2 separate regions of the Homo sapiens genome follow, and region 1 is linked to region 2. Evidence: fine-mapped expression QTL. Tissue or cell type: whole blood. Region 2 holds a variant in brackets; the other region holds the start of a gene. All regions are shown on one strand. Distances are from middle to middle.

What was found. PIP is the estimated chance that this variant, and not a neighbour inherited with it, causes the effect.
Region 1: it holds the start of CSAD, and the variant in region 2 is fine-mapped to the expression of CSAD in whole blood (TOPMed, PIP above 0.99).

What each region holds. Positions count from the first base shown.
Region 1 is chr12:53,179,726-53,182,407 of GRCh38, reverse strand. It overlaps CSAD (cysteine sulfinic acid decarboxylase), which reads left to right and starts at 1,483. Exons shown (of 17, transcript NM_001244705.2): 1 at 1,483-1,676. It overlaps ZNF740 (zinc finger protein 740), which reads right to left and starts at 1,686. Exons shown (of 7, transcript NM_001004304.4): 1 at 1,571-1,686; 2 at 416-731. The coding sequence starts at 424. RefSeq lists silencers at 669-963, 1,317-1,616, 1,907-1,996 and an enhancer at 1,659-2,217.
Region 2 is chr12:53,143,618-53,146,299 of GRCh38, reverse strand. No RefSeq gene overlaps it. Among named protein-coding and RNA genes, the nearest start is that of ZNF740, 36 kb to the left of the region's middle. The variant TC/C (reference allele first, on the strand shown) is at 1,325.

The sequences.
Region 1 (2,682 bases), 36 kb before region 2:
ACTGGGGACAAGGACAATCGTATTCATCTTTGTATTCCCAGCACAATGCCTTGCATGCAACAGGAACTCAATAAATTCCTGTTGGAAAAAAACAAAAGAAGCATTCACCGTACTATTCACTCCCTTACACCCCTCAGCACTTAATGTACCAAATGTAAACTGAGTACACGTTGCTTTGCAAATGTCCCATCAGTGCCTGTGATGCAGTATAGCCTACCTCCTTCATTTGACTGGAAGCTCCCTGAAGGCAGGGGCTGTGGCCTGTCTCCTTTCCTTCCTCTAGATCTCCCCCTGGTGCTTAATACAGAGCTTGGATCACTGGGGTTGGTCAATATGTTGACTAAGGCAGCATTCAAGAGTGAAACTGCAAACAGGCTTCCCAGTTATCTTGGAGGAGGACTCTAGAGCTTTTTACCTGAGCCATGCTGATTTCTCACTTAAGGCAACCCAAAAGTTCAGGAGTTCCTAGGTCCACCTTTCCTTGAGACACTGTCGTTTTGAAGAACTGTCACCAAATCACGGTAGCGACTCCTTCGTGTCCCATCAGTCCTGTTGCCATATTGAACTTTGTCTTCAAATAGAACTTAGTGTCCTCCGAAGAAAAGATAGGTGTTCCAAGAATCCCTGGACTCTGCCTGGCTCCTGCCTATTGTCTGAAGAAAAAGAGAGTCTACCAGTCTTGGTTTTCCAGTTGAATTCTCTTGATGAAGCTCACGATCTGTTTCAGAAACCTGAAACCAGAAAGGAAGAGGGGGGCTGCTAAATGCAACATCTTCAGGCCATTACAACGTGCGATATGAATTTTTTTTTTGCTGGGCGCTCTCTGTGAAGCTCAGAACGAGGACATGAGTCAAGAAGAGTTTTCTTTCTAGGTCAATAGGAGGAACTGGTCTCCTGGGCAAGGAGTGGAAGCCAACAGGAGCAAAAGTAATTGGGGCCTCCTATGGAGGAACTCTGCCAAAAGGAAAGTTGCTTGGATTTGCCATCTCAGGAATGGAAGAAGGGGGCGGAGACCCTTTGGGGCTTTTGTGCCCAGTGGGCCGGCCCGAAAAGCTCGCACTTTACAGAGGCGGCAAGACTAGGGTGGAGGAAAGCTCAAGGGCCATCGCTGGGTGCTTCGGTGGCGGGCAGAAACGGGACTGGCAGTGCCCACACGTGTGCGTTCTCCCCGTCCGCCCGAAGGTAGGGAAACTTGCTGCGGAGGTGGAGGACAGGCAGGCGAAGCCCGGCGCGGCGTGTCGCCCGCCTCGCTCCGGCCAGCCAGCCTCTGCACCCGCTGCACCAACCGGGAGCAGAGCCGGAGAGTGCCGAGAAGCGCGCGAGATGCGTGCTCGCGCCCGCGTCCCCTCCGAGAGCCCTCTCCCGGGCCGGGGACGCGGCGGGACGCGCGGGCAGGGGGCGGTGTGCGCGCACGGCCTTTCCCCTCCCTCCCCCGGAGATCCCCCTCCCTTCGCCACGCGCCCCTCCTCCCCTCCCCTCCCCCTTCCCGCGCGGCACCCCACGGCTTGCGAGCTACTGAAGCGCTGCCGTCTGTACGGACGACGCTGCGGTCTTTGGGGCTTGCTCCTACCTGCCAGGCGCGGCCTCCCGCTGGCTCCCTGGCCGCGCGGCGCCTCCTCCAGGCCCCAGCACACCCTGCCAACCCCACCGCCGCGGCTGCCCCCACCGGGACCGAGGCAAGTTTACAAACACCAACCCCGGCCCGTTTCCCCGGAAGCACTTCCCCCTCCCCCTCGTCCTCTCCGCCGAGCGGCTGCATCCACTTCCGGGCTCGGCAGCTAGACTAGCGGGGGCAGCCTCAGAGCGGGTGAGCTTGGGGACGCACGGAGAGGTGCAGCTGGGTGAGTGGGCGGCGCCGTGCGCCGAGGGCATGGAGGAGGGAGCGCTGAGGCCGGCGCGTGCGCCGTGGCCGGGGCGCGCCCCGGCCGCCATCGAGACTGAGGGCAGGACCCTCGGCCCTTCGATGATTGTACGCTGGGTGCTCGATGGGAGGAGGGTTTGCTGGGTGAGCTGGTTCAGACTCCTTGAAAAATCATCGTCACTCTTTCTTCCTCGCGGACGTCCTGCCCATCGCTCTGAGCCGGCGCCCCAAGTAGAGCCAGAGTAGTTCGTACCCAGCCTTTTCACGTAACTCGGCCGAGGTGGTTCTTCTCCGAATTTTTTCCGTCAGGCCCAGATTAGCAGATTTTGGGGTCAGCTGGGAGAGGCGTTAACTTTTCTTCGCACACTCTTGCTTTGTGCGCTCAACCACAGTCTGAATTCTCGCAGAGGCGTTCCTTGAGTAGCCCTTGGCCACACTGCTCACCTCCCTGCAGAAGTCAAAGCCCCAGCCCTCCTCTGCGAATCCCGAGGCCAGCCTGGTTGGTTACCTTCTCCCCTTCGCCCTTTACTCCAGGCCGTCCAGCATCAAACACTAGCCTCCACACGTGGAAAAGACCCTGACTCCCACAGTAGACTAGTCTTATGGGAGTCCTGGCTCTTGGGCCAGGCTGCATTAGGAAAATGGAAACCAGACTGTCTTCAAATTCTTCTGCCTAGCCTTAGCCATTAGAGAGAGGTCCTGCTAAAGATGGACTGCAAATGCGCTTGATGGAAGGAGATGTCAATTCCACTGAAGTCCTCATTTCTGCTGTAGGTGATATTATGTCGTGACTTTAGGAGAAGTAATGGTGATACCAAAAG
Region 2 (2,682 bases):
CATGATCTCGACTCACTGCAACCTCCACCTCCTGGGTTCAAGCAATTCCCCAGCCTCTGCCTCCCAAGTGGCTGGGACTACAGGTGCATGCCACCACTCCTGGCTAATTTTTGTATTTTGTTTTAGTAGAGACGGGGTTTCACTGTATTGGCCAGGTTGGTCTGGAACTTCTGATTTCAAGTGATCTGCCCACCCCAGTCCCCCAAAGTGCTGGGATTACAGGCGTGAGCCACCTCGCCTGGCCTGGGATGGTGTTTTGCTATGTTGGCCAGGCTGGGCTCAAATGAACCTCCTGCCTCAGCTTCCCAAAGTGCTGGGATTAGGGACATGAGCCCTAATGTCTGGCCTGTGACGGTTGATGTTGTATGTCAACTGGCCTAGGTTAGAGAGCTGGTAGACATTATTTCTGGGTGTGTCTGTGAGGCTGTCTCTAGAAGAGCTTGCATTTGAATTGCTGTACTGAGGAAAGAAGATCTGTCCTCATCAATGTGCAGGCATCATCCAATCACTGAGGGCTCAATAGAACAAAAAGGTGAGGAAAGGGCACATTCTCTGTCTTCTTGAGCTGGGACATCAATCTTATGCCCTTGACACTCACCTGAGGACACTGGAGGTCCTGGTTCTCAGGCCTTTGGACTCTGGGATGACACCATTTCCTGCCCTGGTTCTCAGGCCTTTGGCCTCAGACTGGGAGCTCTGCCACTGGCTGCCCTAGTTCTCATGCCCTTGGACTCTGATTGAGTAACACCCCTAGCTTTCCTGATTCTCCAGCTTACAGATGGCATATCATGGGAATTCTTGACCTCCATAATTGTGCAAGCCAATTCCCGTGATAAATCTCTTACATATTTACATATATCCTAATGGTTCTGTTTCCCTGGAGAATCCTGACTAATACAATTGCAACTGATCTTCTCAAAGAACCAACCTTGGTTTCACTGGGTGTCTTTATTGTTATCTACTTAATTGATTTCTGCTTTAATCTATTATTTCCTTTATTCTGCTTATTTTGAGTATAATCTCCTCTTTTCTAGTTTGTTAAGGTGGAAGCTGAGGACATTGGTTATAGATTTTTCTTCTTTTCTACTATAGGCATTCAGTGCTATAAATTTCTAAGTACTGCTTCAGGCTTTTTCTTCTTCTTTAAAAAGAATTTTTTTTTTTTTACATTTTTAGTAGAAATGGGGTTTTACCATGTTGGCCAGGCTGGTCTCGAACCCCTGGGTTCAAGTGATCCGCCTGCCTAGGCCTCCCAAAGTGCTGGGATTACAGGTGTGAGCCACCACTCCTGGCCCAACTTCAGTTTTATCCCATACATTTTATC[TC/C]ATAAATTTTGATATGTTGTCTTTATTTTCATTTGGTTCAAAATACTTTTTATTTTCCCTTCTAATTTCTTTGATTTATGGTTTATTTAGAAATGTGTTCTTCAGATTCCAAATATTTGGGAACTGTCCGGATATATTTCTGTTATTGTTTGTTTGTTTTGGGACAGGGTCTCACTCTTGTCACTGAGGCTAGAGTGCAGCAGTGTGATTTTGGCTCACTGAAATCTCAGCTTCCAGGGCTCAAGTGATTCTCCCACCTCAGCCTCCCGAGTAGTTAAGACTACAGGTGTGCACTACCATTCCCAGCTAATTTTAAAAACTCAGCCCTACCTCTACAAAAAATACAAAAATCAGCCAAGCACAGTGGTGCATACCTGTCGTCAAACTCCTGGGCTCAAGCAATCTGCCTGCCTTGGCCTCCCTAAGTGCCAGGATTACAGGTGTGAGCCACCATGCCCAGCTTCTGTTGCTGATTTCTAATTTAAGCCATTTTGGTCAGAAAACATACTTTGTATAATTTGCATCCTTTTACATTTATTGAGACATGTCTTATTGCCCAGAATGTGCTACCAAATAGGAATATAATATGAAAATCAGATAATGACATTACAAGAAAACTACAAACCAATATCCACCATGGTACAGATACAAAAATCCTTAAAACAGTTGCAGCAAATTGGATCTAACAGTATAGAAAAACATACATCATGACTAAGTGGAGTTTACCCTAGGAATTCAATGTTGGTTTAATTTTTTTTTTTTTTTTTTTGAGACAGAGTCTTGCTCTGTCGCTCAGGCTGGAGTGCAGTGGCGAGATCTCAGCTCACTGCAAGCTCCGCTTCCTGGATTCACGCCATTCTCCTGCCTCAGCCTCCCGAGTAGCTGGGAATACAGGCGGCCACCACCATGCCCGGCTAATTTTTTGTATTTTTAGTAGAGACAGTTTCACCGTGTTAGCCAGGATGGTCTTGATCTCCTGACCTCGTGATCTGCCCGCCTCAGCCTCCCAAAGTGCTGGGATTACAGGCATGAGCCACTGTGCCCAGCCAAATGTTGGTTTAATTTTTAAAAATTAATCAGTGTAATTCAATATATTGTAACTCAAAGAAAATGACCAAGGTGAGTCTCAATCATTTTAAGAGGTTTATTTGTCAAGGTTAAGGACACACCTTGGAAAAAGAATACAGAAACACAGGAAAAATCTGTGGTCTGTGCGCTTTTCTGAAGACAGTCTGGGGATCTCAATATTTGAAGGGGAAAGAGTGGACATTGGGGGAGAGAGGAAGAAAGAAAAAAGGGAGGATAGATAAAAGAGGCAAGCAGTTGTTTTCTTTTGAGTCTCTGATGACCGTTCACT